2 linked regions of the Homo sapiens genome follow. The protein of the gene in region 2 interacts with the protein of the main gene of each other region in a biochemical or structural test. Each region holds a gene or a part of one and is shown on either strand. Other genes may lie near its edges. The genes, in order: SPATA2 and CYLD.

Region 1 (7,276 bases), on a different chromosome or scaffold from region 2:
CCTCTGAGATCAATGCGTTAGTACTTCTTCACCGTGAAACCCGAAAGGTCGGTTGATGTAGCCCTTGGAGCTGGAAGGGGCGAGGCCGGTCTATCTGTACACGAGATGGGAGAGCTGGGTGGACTTGTAGTTCAGCTGGTTGTTGGGCATGAACTTGTGCAGCTCACTCTTTTTGTAGCAGGGGTCATAATGGTAAGCGCTGAGGCAGGCGTCACATGAGACTTTTGAACACTGGGTGCAGGTGTTGGTGGCGCCTGGGCGGTTGCAGAAGCCACAGCGGGAAGTGGGCGTGGTGGAGGGCTTGGATTTGGAGTGAAGGTGCGGGAGGCGGTCGAGGCCCTGAGTCTGGCCTGGGTACTTCTCCCGCAGAGATGCCCCGTGGGCCAGGCTGTCATGAGTCGAGGCCTTGCTGGGGAAGGCGCTGGGCTTGGAAGCTGGAGGACAGGTGAGCAGGCTGTCACAGCGCTGGCAGAGGGAGGAGCTGCAGGACAGCCCGCAGCTTTGGCACTTGGAGAGGGCGGACTCTTTGGCAGGGGGCGAGCGCTTGTGGTAGAGGGAGTGGGCATCGTTTCTGAGCAGCCACACATCCGGCCGCAGAGCATCCTGCCGACGGTAGGTGGCCCTGGGTTCAGAGTCTGTGTACAGATCCACGTCATCCTGAGTGGAGAAGTAGGTACCGCGCAGCAGGGCCGGGCCGTTGCTGGGGGAGGCGGGTGGAAGCACATCCGGGCTGCCGTGGGGGGAGCTGGCCATGGTCAGCAGCGAAGGGGATGGGCGGATGATCTCATCCTTGAGGTCGTCCCCCACATCCGTTGCCACAGGCTCCTTCCGAAGACTCAATGAGGCCTTCAGGGGTGGCTTCCGGCTCTCCCAGTAGCTGTCATAGGCATCCACTGACCTCGAGGGCTTGGTCACGCGGGGCTTGTAGTAGTCCTTGGCCGCCCGCTCGCTGGCCGACTTCTGGAGTGCCACTCGTGACATGGAGGCCGTCAGGTGCTCCCGGCCCTCTGCCCGCCGCCGCAGGGCGTCCGAGCAGCCGCGCACATCCTCTGCACTGCTCTTGCGCTCGCTCACAATGTCCAGCTCGGAGTAGCCCTTGTCCTTCACTTGTGAGTGGATTTCTAGCATCTGCTCACACTCGACTTTGGCCAGAAAGAGCTCAAAGGAGACCATCTTCACCTGGAGGGTCTCCACGAGCTCTCTGAGCTTGTATGCAGTGCCCAGCTCAGGTGTGTAGCCCATGCAGCTCAGGATGGCTCGGATGTCCTCTTCCAGTAATGTCGACTTGACATAATAAACAAAAGGGCCCGTGTAGGTCTAGAAGGGAGGGAGTAGAAAAGAAAGGTGGGGTTTTCTGTCAGAGACACAAGACAGAGACTATGTCAAAGCAAAGGATGTCCAGCTCTGAAGTGGGGCGGCGGGGAGAGGGCAGGGCAGGGAAGGATCTCGACAGCCTCACCCTGCGGGAGGCAGAAGACGCAGGAGCTGGGGCTTGCTAAGCACTCAGGAATTGTGCAAGGAAATGACCCAGCAGCTCCTTTCTTTTGTTTGAGACGGAGTCTCGCTCTTTTGCCCAGGGTGGAGTGCGGTGGTGCGATCTTGGCTCACTGCAACCTCCGCCTCCTGGGTTCAAGCGATTCTCCTGCCTCAGCCTCCTGAATAGCTGGGATTACAGGCGCCCGCCAACACGCCCAGCTAATTTTTCTGTTTTTAGTAGAGATGGGGTTTCACCGTGCTGGTCAAGCTGGTCTCAAACTCCTGACCTCGTGATCCACCCGCCTCGGCCTCCCAATGTGCTGGGATTACAGGTGTGAGCCACCGCGCCTGGCAGCAGCTACTTTGTTAAACACAGGAAGCAAAACCTCTCGCTTCCTAGTGGGGCACGAAGACTCTACTCCATATGAAGAGAGAGCCTGGGCAAACATGGCTGAATAAAGGGGCCAGATTACAGGCAGAACGCGGTGACAATCAGAACGTTCCTCTCTGGTATTTCCATGAGGGGCTGAGTAACACGGCAGACTGAAGGGCCTGGCTAGGTGACAGCTCTCCTGTGCCATCCCCTCTCTTGATTACCACTCCTCCCATGGCAGAATGAAGAAGCCTGGCTAGGTGACAGCTCTCCTGTGCCATCCCCCGCGTGGTCTGATTCAGGATCCCTCTCTCAATTCCCCCTCCTCCTCTACTGTTCCCACTTAGTACAGAACACCCCTCAGCTTGCTGGGACCGCTGAGAAGCTTCCTAACTGCTCTCCCCATCCCTCCCACCTCCCCCCACCCCTCTACAGCCTACTTCCCATACCACAGCCAGAATGACCCTCTTCAGATGCAAGCCAGATCCCACACTGCCTCCTTCCCCGCCTACTCAGAACAAATCCAAGCCTTGCCCTGGGCCACAAGACCCTGCATAACCTGGCTGCCCCTGCCTTCCCAGCTTCTCTGCTTAAGGTGTGGCAGCCGGGCCAGAAACGGTTCAGAGGTGATGCTGGAGAGACGGGGAAGGTTCGGAGCCCGGAAGGATCTGAGAGCACAGGATGGATGGGATCAGACTGGCATAGCCTCTCAGGAGGGACTGCCAGGGGCAGGAAGAGAGAAGGAGGGCCTGTATGGAGGCTGCTCCAGGACCTCACCTTGATGCTTCTGAATTCCTTCTTCCACGGGTAGAGGAAGAGGTTGATGCCCACCGTCTCCAGCATGCTGAAGGCGCCGTGCAGAGCCCGCAGGCTAGAGGAGCTGAGCGAGCGCAAGGAGCTCTCCACCACCTCATAGAACTGGATCAGCCGGAATCGATAAAAGGGATCCACCTTGTGCAGGCTGAGCAGGGTTGAGGCTGCCACCCGCAGGCACTCATCGCTGCCAGGCCGCTGCCTGCTGGTGGTGGTATCCACTTTGCTCTCATGGAACTGCACGTACTTCCGAAATAAGTCATCCTTGAATTTAGTATCCATTGAACTGGGCTTCCCCATCCGATCGAGGGGGGCTACCTTATCTCCTCCATGGCTTCTGGATTAGAGGCAGGGACATCACTAAAAGCATGGACATGTTGCCGCCTGGACCAGCGGAGTGCTCTGGAAGGAGGGGAACAAGAAGCATGTCATTCCTCGATACGGTCGCGCTTCGGCTTCAGGTCGCTGAGGCAAAATGAACAGCAGAACTGGCCTGGGCTACACTGGACCCCAGCAGCACACTACAGAGCATGTACTACAAGCAGGGTTACAACAGAGGCCAGAGAGAGATGGACCTTGACTTTGTTGTGCTCACAAATGAAAAATACGATTAATATTCCTGAAAGAGAAATTCGGGTGAGTACAGCAGGAGCTCCTGTCCTGGTTTCGTTGGGGAAGGGCGAGTTTAGGAAAGCCCTCTTGAGACAGCAACAGACCTGAAGGATGAGGAGTCTGCCAGGCCAAGAGGCCGGGGAAGGAGTCGCAGTAGAGGAAGGCCCTGAGCTAATAGTACCAGAGGCTCCAGACACGTGACGAGCTTCACACACACTAACTCGCTTACTTTTTTTTTGAGATGGATCCTTGCTCTGTAGCCCAGGCTGGAGTGCAGTGGCGTGATCTCAGCTCACTGCAACCTCCGCCTCCCGGGTTCAAGCGATTCTCCTGCCTCAGCCTCCCAAGTAGCTGGGATTACAGGCACCTGCCACCACGCCTGGTTAATTTTTGTATTTTTAGTCAAGATGGGGTTTCACCATGTTGGCCAGGCTGGTCTCGAACTCCTGACCTCAAGTGATCCACCAGCCTTGGCCTCCCAAAGTGCCAGGATTACAGGTGTGAGCCCCCATACCCAGCCTCACTTTTTCTTCTTAAACAATCCTAGGAGAGAGACGCTACAGGCAGCCCCAGTGGACCATGTGCAAACTGAGACACAGACATTAGAAACTGCTCAAGGTAGGCCAGGCACAGTGGCTCACACCTGTAATTCCTGAACTTTGGGAGGCTGACGGGGGAGGATGGCTTGAGTCCAGGAGCTCGAGACCAGCCTGGGAAACACGGTGAAACCACGTCTCTACAAAAATACAAAAAAATTTTTAAGAAAAAGAAACTGTCCAAGGTTATAGAACTCTCAGGAGGCAGAGAAGCTGAGCTCAGAACCCAGGCAATCTGGCTCCAAAGTCCATGCCCTTACCCACCACACCCTGCTTTCCTGAGGCAGGAAGCCTGGAACAGTAACAGAACTGCAGCCAGTGAGGCCGAGGCCACGAGGGCAGGGGCATGAGGAGAGGCAGATGCCAGCATCAGCGGGACCCTCAGCCCCAAGGCCGCAAGAGCACATTCAGAATTCGATATTTTATACAAAGAGCCACGTGAAGCCACTGAAGAGTTTACAGCGAGGGGAGAGAGATACGGTCTTATTTACAATTTTCAAAAGAGGCCACCGTGGCTACCGGCCCCTGGAGTGCTGTTACCGGCCTTTGACAGCCTGCGGCCCCTTTATCACCAGAGCGCTTGACAGCCCCCTGTTGGGAGAGGATAGAATGTTCTGAGCTGGGACACAGGCTTTACACAATCTTGTCATCTGCTTAGCCACTTGTTAGTAGAACAGGCACAGATCCAGCAATATTCTTGTCACCACAACGCTGGGAGCGAATCCGGATTAATGGAGGGACACTGCCAGGGCCAGGGGAGACAACACGCGCAGGGTCACGGACACGGGGTCCAAGGCCAGGCACCTGCGAGTGAGGCCAGGGCTGCTTCTCCAGGTTACTTGGGCAAATTGCTCCACCTCCCTGGGTGTCGGTTTTCTCCTATAAAACGGGGTTAATAATAGCGCCTCTGTCCAGAGCTGGCGAGAGGATTATGCATGATGGAATATGAAGCTGCTCAGAGAGCCGGCTCCGGGAAGTCCTTGATGGCCATTGCTGTTGTCTGAAGGTGCTGTACCCCTAAGTGGACAGGCCTTCTCTGAGTGGGGCAAATACCTCTGACTGGGTGGTAGATGTGCATTTTCACATGCTCTGGTCCTGCTGCTCCTGCCCAGAAGCTCCGTGGGTGCAGGCCTGTGACCATCTTGCTCAGTAAGGTGACCTGTGTGCTTCATGTCTGCTGAGTGTGGGAGACAGCAAGGGGCTGAGAGAAGCTGCAGCAGGACTGGGCCTGGCATGTGGGGGACTCCTTTAGCAGACCTGTGTTCAGCTAGGAAGGTCCTACGAGCCCAGCAACTATCAGGAGGTCAACAAAATCATCCTCATCTCAAAGAGCCAGTAGTCTGGCTCCTCCACAGATTTTGTCCCCAGGAGGAGACTCCTGGGAGTACTAATGGTGCGGTGAGAGGTGGGATGTGTAGCAAAACTAGGGACACAGAGAGGCCACTGTCTCCAACACACTGCACTGCTGAGGGAGCCCAGTGCTACAGTGACAAATAAGGCTGAGGAGTACAGGAGGCAAACACATCCATTTAGGGGCCAGGTGCGGGGGCTCACGCCTGTAATCCCTAAACTTTGGAAGGCCAAGGCAGGAGGATTGCTCAAGGCCAGGAGTTCGAGACCAGCCTGGGCAACATAGCAATACCCTGTCTTTACAAAAGAAAACAAAATCCACTTGGGATAAAATTCTGCTTCAGGAAGATTCTCATCATTCAGGCCTCAGCTCAAACATCAGCCTCTAGAGGTACCACCCTATCTCACCTTCCCAGTTCCACACTGTCACATTCTCCTACGATAACCACAATCTGAAACTATCAACTTCATTCATTCATTAGCTTCCTCTCTTTGTCCACCCCTCACCCTCCCTGGTAAGCTGGTAAGCTCGTGGTAAGCTCCATAAAGGCAAGGACCATGTCTGTGTTGTTCACCACGATGCCTAACACAGAGCCTGCCTGTGCTTGATAAAGTAGGTGAAATGGATGCTGCAGCCAGGCACGGTGGCTCACGCCTGTAATCTTAGCACTTTGGGAGGCCGAGGCAGGTGGATTGCCTGAGCTCAGGAGTTCGAGACCAGCCTGGGCAACACGGTGAAACCCCGTCTCTACCAAAATTTAAAAAAAAATTAGACGGGTGTGGCAGCATGCGCCTGTAATCACAGCTACTCGGGAGGCTGAGGCAGGAGAATTGCTAGAACCCAGGAGGCGGAGGCTGCAGTGAGCCGAGATCGCCCCATTGCACTCCAGCCTGGGCAACAGAGCGAGACTCCGTCTCTAAAAAAAAAAAAAGAAAAAGAAAAAGAAAAGAGAAAAAGAGAAATGGATGCTGCAAAGGATGTCTGCATTCACGATGCCATCACTTTAGTTTCTCATTGGTACCTCCCAAGAATCCTGGGAGATCAGCTGGAGAGCAAAGAAACGGGCTCAGAAAGATGGCATGAGGTACGACAAGTAGCTCAAGGTTAGCAGATGATGGACCCGATAATCCAAGCCTGGCCTTCTGACTTGGAACCTGTATTCCTCTCACCACCCCACGATTCCCATGTCCAGCAAGCATTTCTGCAGCCCCCACCCTCTGCCTGAGCTGGACCCAGTCGGGGAATGGGGATGGGTGGGACAGGTAGAGGACAGCAATAAAGGAGACACATCCTGCCTGCAGCTCTAGCTGGAAGAGCATACCACCTAGTATCAAAGTAGGTATGTGCTCTAACTTCATACTGTTCTGTCCATAAAAAAATAAACAATTTAAAATGTATATTCTCTTAAAAAATAAAAATGCAGGCCAGGCGCGGTGGCTCACGCCTGTAATCCTACAACTCTGGGAGGCCAAGGTGGGTGGATCGCCTGAGATTGGGAGTTTGAGACTAGCCTGGCCAACATAGCGAAACCCCGCCTCTACTAAAAATACAAAAATTAGCTGGACGAACACCTGTAATCCCAGCTACTCAGGAGGCTGAGGCAGGAGAATGGCGTGAACCCAGGAGGGAGAGGTTGCAGTGAGCTGAGATCGTGCCATTGCACTCCAGCCTGGGCAACAGAGCAAAAACTCCATCTCTACATAAATAAATGTATTGCACCACTGGAGAGGATAGTCACACATGCATTTACCATTCTTGACTTATCTAAGAGAAGCTGCCATCACGCCTCTGGCCCCAGGGTCTGTTTTTTGGTAGTCTGAGAACCATTCAAACACAGAGACATTAAGCTTCCGAATACTGCTGTAATTTTTCTCCAAGGAAGTCAGCCTTGAACTCAAAGAGACTGATTTTTTACAAAGTCAGCCAGTCTCAAGCTCGGCTCAGCGTCTGCTGCTCTATAATCGCACCACAGTCCACACCCTTGTTTGTTGCTGAAAAACAATAAATAAAGGAAAGGGATCCAAACAGCCCAGCTGATGTTCAAAATACTCACAA
Region 2 (7,276 bases):
TCCCCTTTACTCAGAATCCAGACCATCAACAAGCTCAGATAACCAGAAATGTTTTCAAATCTATGTGAACCTGAACTGTTCTCCTTCATCAGCGTCCTTAAAGGAAAGGCCTTCTGTTCAACATGGCTTTAGGGTTAAACATATTATTGTGTTTCAACTCGTTGGTAATTTTCATTCAGTATTTATTACCAAGATATTCATAATCACACAGTTATCCAGCCTGAAGTAAGATAGTATTTAGATGAGTCATTTGTGATATACTCACTCAAAGTGATTCAACCTGCAAAATAATAAGAGAATACAAGTGAAAATTTCTCCCTTCACACTGACCCCTCACCCCCACCTGCCCTACGGTGACTTTGAATTTAGCTGTGCTTCTTTTTCCTTCAGTTGTCTTACTGTTCCCTAGGCCTTTACTTAAAGGCAGAAGCTGAGTGAATGTGGATTGATGTTGGGTTTTTTTTTGTGTGTGTTCTCTCTTTCCTCTTTGTTTTTTTTTTTTTTTTTTTTTTTGAGACCAGGTCTTGCTCTGTCACCCAGGCTGGAGTACAGTGGTGTGATCATAGCTCTCTTCAGCCTGGACCTCCTGGGCTCTAGCGATCTTCCCATCCTCCAGAGTAGCTGGGACCCTGAGTAGCTGGGCCCACAGGCAGACACCACCACACCCGGCTAATTTTCTTTTCTTTTTTTTTCTTCCTTTTGGGACAGGCTCTCATTCTGTCACCCAGGCAGGAGTGCGGTAGTGCTATCACAGCTCACTAAAGCCTTGAACTCCAGGGCTTAGGGGATCCTCCCACTTCAGCCTCCAAAGTGCTGGGATTACAGGAGTGAGCCACTGTGCCTAGCCTAGATGATGTAGTTTTCAGTATCTAACTCTGTACTGAAAGCGTAAAAAATACCAAACTAACAAACCAACCTTCTTGATGATAAATAACTCATTTACAATGTGATTTAGATCTTTCCCTTCATATTGTGTTGAGTCAGTTTTTACTGCTTGGGGTACCTAAGACTTTAACTATTTAACTACTATGCACATCCCAGTGAAAGTAGACTGTTGGTGTTATATTCACTTCTACAGTGGGGAGAAATGTATGTTAGCATATTTTTATTGCAATACTGGTATTTTGAGTACATAAAATAAATATATATATATAATGGAGTGTGTATATATGTGAGAGAGTGTGTGACAGGGTCTTGCTTTTTCACCCAGGCTGAAGTGCGGTGGCGTGATCATGGCTTGCTGCAGTCCCTCCCTCCAGGGCTCAAGCCATCCTCCCACCTCAGCCTCACAAGTAGCTGGGACTACAGGCACATGCCATCACACCTGGCTAACTTTTGTACTTTTTGTAGAAATGAGGTTTCACTGTGTTGCACAGGCTGGTCTCAAACTCCTGGGCTCAAGCTGTCCACTCACCTTGGCTTCCCAAAGTGTTGGGATTACAGGCGTGAGTCACTGTGCCTGGCCGAGAATATTAGTGATCATTCAGTTGATTGCCTTGTATATCTCTAGACTCGAGCCGTAAAGTTTCCCATTCAACTTTCTCTATCAGTTGCAGTGAAGAGAATCAATTTTTAATAAGAGAGTTTCAAACTTGTTCTTAATATATTCTTTCTGAAAGAGGAAAGGCTGTATCCTTTATTTTTGGATAATGCTTTTGAAATATTTGATAACTTGTGCTTGACTATTTTAGTTGTCTAACATGACCCATCCTATTGCTAAGTCTAAGCTCATTTCCACTTGTGCTAATGAAAGTTAGGAAAAAAGTTACCACTCCTTGTAGAGTTCACTTTAAAATATGGTACTTGAAAGCTATAGTTTATTACCCTAAAACATTTTTATAAACCTAGCAGTTATATCAATTTTTACTGTGGATTCTCTTCCTTAAATTATTTCAGAAAGCAAGCTTATAATCAAATTTATTTAACATAATGTCCTAATGCACATATAGTAATTTAGTTTTGTCTTAATAATAGATTATTAGCATTAATGATTTTTATTTTAAATTGTGACATGAATAGTTAAGCTACAGGACCAATAGAGTAGGAGCTGTTGGTATAAAGCAATTATTAAGATTCAGGGAAGTTTCTGATTGTAATATTTGAAGACATTGTTCTTAGGAATTTTAAAAAAGAATTTCTTTTCAAAATAGAATTACTTTACCTTTTTCAAAAAAATTTTGGCCCTAAAAATCTAAATACATTTTAAAGAGAACCAAAACAACAGCTCGTTTTTTTGAAAGTTGCTTTTTGACTGTCTTAACCTTCTGCTAGTGACCAGACTCTCTATTCAATAAAGCCTATGTGCCCTTTGCTCCTAAAGACCCTTTCAGAATGTATGCATTCCTCTTTTCACGATTGTTGCTTTGTGTTTTCAAACACACAAACATATTTCACTACCTGGCTTCTCAGAACTGATTCGAAGCGATAAGTTGGAAAGCAACAAGGCCGTAAAAGGAGTCAAATGCATACAGCAGGAAACCACAGAAAATGGCTGATTGCAAGGGAAAACTCTAGACAGTAGATCTGTAGAAAGCATTCGCGACCTCAGGAAGCATAAGATACAGCCTTTTAACAAAATAACAGCCTTGCAGATCAAGAGTTATGCAAAATAATTTACAGTCATAATGATACATCAATGATCAAGAAAAAAATAAGGACATTTTCTTGTGGAAAGTGTTGACATGTTAAAAGCATTTTGGTCAAAAAGAACCAACACTTCAGTTTGGTCCTTTAAAGGAATCCAACCAAATTGAGGGGTTGGATAGCTGTTTGGGCAGCCCTTATAAGGAGTTTTGTTTATATTGTGTCAAGATAGAGGTTTCCACAGGTGTCTTATATAAGTGGCAAATATAAATTGATCCCATTCTTGCTGAAGTAGACAGTGCCCTCAAGTGGAATTAAAACAAACACACCACAAAAAAGAAGAAAAGAGAACCACTTCATGCTACCTCTGCTTTTACCCTCACTGAGTGTTACACAGATATTTCAGTCATGTTGGTTTGAAGGAGGTGCCTAACCTGTATCCTGTCTTGGCTAAACCACATGTCTCATGCTGGCTTGTAGAGGGAGAGACTTTTAGGAACGTTACCATTATGGAATACTTCATTATCTAGCAGTGCTTTCTAAAAGAAGTGTTCCACTGTGTATAGATTTGCCAGGTTGTTTGATCATTAAGTGATTAAATCTAAAATTTGGTTCTTTAGGAGTATTTATTTTTTAATTGCTAGAATAAAATAAATATGATAGTGCTATCAATTGCAGCCATTACCCAGAATAATGGAAATGGATACCTCTATCTCAAGGAAGGATGAAATGAAAGTACTGTCTTTGGAAACCAGATAGCCACATTCTTATGACAGGGATACCTAGGAAGTATTGTTTTCAGCAGAAAATTAATTAAAATAATGAAGTAAAGTCTCAGTTTAAATTAATGAAATTGTGTAGTTTTTTAACCATCAGTTAAAATAGGTTTGAGAATGAGCCTACTTCATTGGAAAGATTATTATTCTTGTAAAAATTTTAAATGAGGACCAGGTGCAGTTGCTCATGCCTGTAATCCTAGAACCTTGGAAGGCCAAGGTGGGAGGATCATTTGAGTCCAGGAGTTTGAAACTGCAGTGAGCTATGATCGCACCAATGTACCCAAGCCTGGGTGACAGAGCGAGACCCTGTCTTAAAAATAAATAAATAAAATAAAAATAAATGAAAATTTGAAAAAGAAATAATAGAAAGAAATTATAATGCAGTTATATCATGATATTCCCTTGCTATGTAGTACAAGTTTTGATGCTACAAAATTGATTTTTAAAATATTTTTAATATAGTCATATTATAATATCTGATATTTGCGATTTGAGAAATCAGATAACTATGATTAATGTGATGAACATTGCCCATCTTCAGAAAAAATATATGAAATGAAGTTGAGTCAGAGGTAAAATGTTCCATTATCACAATATGGCCATATCATAGCTATCATTTATAGGCATGAGCCACACAGCTCAGCCCGAAACGCTACTTTTAAAAGTTTATTAGTGTCAGAATATGGGACAGGCCTGGTGGCTTACGACTGTAATCCCAGTGCGTTGGGAGGCCAAGACAGGAGGATTGTTTGAGCCCAGGAGTTCAAGACCAGCTTAGGCAACATAGTGAGACCCTGTCTCTACAAAAAATAGAAAGCTTAGCTGTGTGTGGTGATATGCGTCTATAATACCAGTTACTCGGGAGGCTGAGGTAGGAGGATCACTTGAGCCTGGAAGGTCTTGGCCACAGTGAACTGTGATTGTGCCACTGCAGTCCAGCATGGGCAACAAGAGTGAGACCCTGTCTCAAAACAAATAAATAAAAATAAATTAAAAAAAGTTAGAATATGTATATAAGGGTAATCTTTAAAAGTTTTTACTAGAATCTGATTTTATAAATTTCAGTGTCTTGGAAGCAAACATTGTGTTGTCTTTGAAAGTACTTTACAATTGGATTTCATTAATTAAATATGCACAGTTACAGTAGATAAAAGTAATACAGTATGTATGTCTTTTAGCCCTTTTAGATATTTTTTGAAAATATTTCATTTGTGTGTATGTGTTTACTGGTCAAATGAAAATTTTAAAAGTCTTCAGTCTTAATTTTCAGTCATGTAGAATGAAGTCTAAAGTTTATTTTTGCTTTTTCACTAGGCATTTTGATTTCCTTTCTTTTTACAGCATGGACACCACGTTGCTGAAAACATGCTTTGGGACTGCCACTGAATTTATCTTTTGCGGTTTTATGACAAAGTTATTAGTAGTTTCCCTTTTTTGAATTAGTATTTTGAAGTTAATATCACAATGAGTTCAGGCTTATGGAGCCAAGAAAAAGTCACTTCACCCTACTGGGAAGAGCGGATTTTTTACTTGCTTCTTCAAGAATGCAGCGTTACAGACAAACAAACACAAAAGCTCCTTAAAGTACCGAAGGGAAGTATAGGACAGTATATTCAAGATCGTTCTGTGGGGCATTCAAGGATTCCTTCTGCAAAAGGCAAGAAAAATCAGATTGGATTAAAAATTCTAGAGCAACCTCATGCAGTTCTCTTTGTTGATGAAAAGGATGTTGTAGAGATAAATGAAAAGTTCACAGAGTTACTTTTGGCAATTACCAATTGTGAGGAGAGGTTCAGCCTGTTTAAAAACAGAAACAGACTAAGTAAAGGCCTCCAAATAGACGTGGGCTGTCCTGTGAAAGTACAGCTGAGATCTGGGGAAGAAAAATTTCCTGGAGTTGTACGCTTCAGAGGACCCCTGTTAGCAGAGAGGACAGTCTCCGGAATATTCTTTGGAGTTGAATTGCTGGTAAGTTTGATAAACCATTTTAGTAGTGTGTTTGTTTGTGTTCATGTGTGTCTGTGTATTTGTATGCACATACATATTTTTCTCCTTAAATACGAAATAAATTTTCCCAAGAGTCTTCTGTAATTTTTAATATTCATCATCCTTGCTGATGAATCCATGTTGTGGTTGAATCCATAATCCAAAACTTGCTTATAGTTGTCACTGATAATATGTGTGAAAATCACCTTGGCGTTTATTTCTGTTGGAAAGAGACCCAAGAACTCTGTGATATGTTTCCAAGCTTAATATTCATTCTTGAGAACTTAAATGTCAATTATATTTTGACATTCTTGCAAATAGAATTGTATGCCTTCTTTGCTTCTTGATTTAATTTCTTTTGTTTACTTTTTAATGATGAATTGCGAAGATGTAAAGATGATGTCGAAACTTAAAAAACTATGTACTATGGTAGGAACATACAAAGAGATTCACCTGGCTATTGCAGACATATATATTTTAGAAATTTTAACATTGCCTGTATTAAACATGAACGCTACCAGTTGTAAATAGTTACATAAAAAATTGTTAATTACCTTGCGTTATCATCTATAGGTTTCTTAGTTCTTCTTAATGTATGTTATTAAATAACAATTTAGATATAAGATTTTTGAAAAAAAAGTTGCAGAAATTTAAACTTGCTTATAATTGTCCCCGATAATATATGTGAAAATCCTTAGAATTTATTTCTACCGGAAGGAGACCCAAGAATGCTGTGATATGTTTCCAAACTTAATATTCATTCACAAGAACTGAAATGCCAATTACATTTTGACACTCTTGCCAATAGAATTGCATGTCTTCTTTGCTTCTTGATTTAATTTTTTTTAAAAGCAGTGATTGTAAACAATTAGGAATTTGAATCCCAGTTAAGCCATTTACTAGCTGGGTTGCCAGGTTACTTAACAAAGCTACTTAACTTCTCTCATTCTGCATCCTTACCTGTACAATGGTGTTAATAGTACATGACTTGTAGTGTTTTTGTGGTACATTGATGCAGGATTTAAGCACAGTGACTGACAATAAGTGCTTAATGAATGGAGCTAACATTACTGCTATTTTAAAGTAACATTTTCTTTTTATAACCAAATTAATGTTAGAATCACAACGTGGAATTCAGCCTAGCTTTCTCATGATAGAGTTATGAATTGAAATTATCAGATAATATTATTTCAGCATCAGATACAACTTCTTATTTTTTAAAACACTCTAAATCCAACAGAAACTGCTAATAATTGTATTTCTTATTATATGTATCATTTAGAAATTTTCCAGAGTGATTTTCCTGAAATCCCTAGAGTGAACCCCTTTTCCTATGGATCGTCTTTCTATATCTATTTCTTTCCCTTCTCTCTTAAAAACTAGGAAGAAGGTCGTGGTCAAGGTTTCACTGACGGGGTGTACCAAGGGAAACAGCTTTTTCAGTGTGATGAAGATTGTGGCGTGTTTGTTGCATTGGACAAGCTAGAACTCATAGAAGATGATGACACTGCATTGGAAAGTGATTACGCAGGTCCTGGGGACACAATGCAGGTCGAACTTCCTCCTTTGGAAATAAACTCCAGAGTTTCTTTGAAGGTTGGAGAAACAATAGAATCTGGAACAGTTATATTCTGTGATGTTTTGCCAGGAAAAGAAAGCTTAGGATATTTTGTTGGTGTGGACATGGTAAGAAAATTTTGGATTAAATATCTTTGTGATATATATATTAGTTTATATATATATGTATATATATATATAAACATATATATACACACATATATATACACACATATATATGTATAGTTTATATATATATGTATTAGTTTTAGGACCAATTTACTTGCAAATTGAACACTTTGAATATTTAACATGATCTAATTTGGAGTACTTTAAAGAACATGTTCTAATTTATCTTTGGTAAAGGAGCA

What was found.
Region 1: the proteins of CYLD (region 2) and SPATA2 form a complex in vitro, tested with the Homo sapiens proteins (one study listed by BioGRID).

The regions. Positions count from the first base shown.
Region 1 is NC_000020.11:49,905,529-49,912,804, forward strand, and holds part of SPATA2 (spermatogenesis-associated protein 2), read right to left. Parts: exon of another isoform or gene 4,924-7,276; intron 3,065-4,923; 5' UTR 2,963-3,064; coding exon 2,627-2,962; intron 1,318-2,626; coding exon 91-1,317; 3' UTR 1-90.
Region 2 is NC_000016.10:50,744,873-50,752,148, forward strand, and holds part of CYLD (ubiquitin carboxyl-terminal hydrolase CYLD), read left to right. Parts: intron 1-4,676; exon of another isoform or gene 4,677-4,703; 5' UTR 4,704-4,826; coding exon 4,827-5,330; intron 5,331-6,731; coding exon 6,732-7,034; intron 7,035-7,276. UniProt on the Homo sapiens protein: Deubiquitinase that specifically cleaves 'Lys-63'- and linear 'Met-1'-linked polyubiquitin chains and is involved in NF-kappa-B activation and TNF-alpha-induced necroptosis.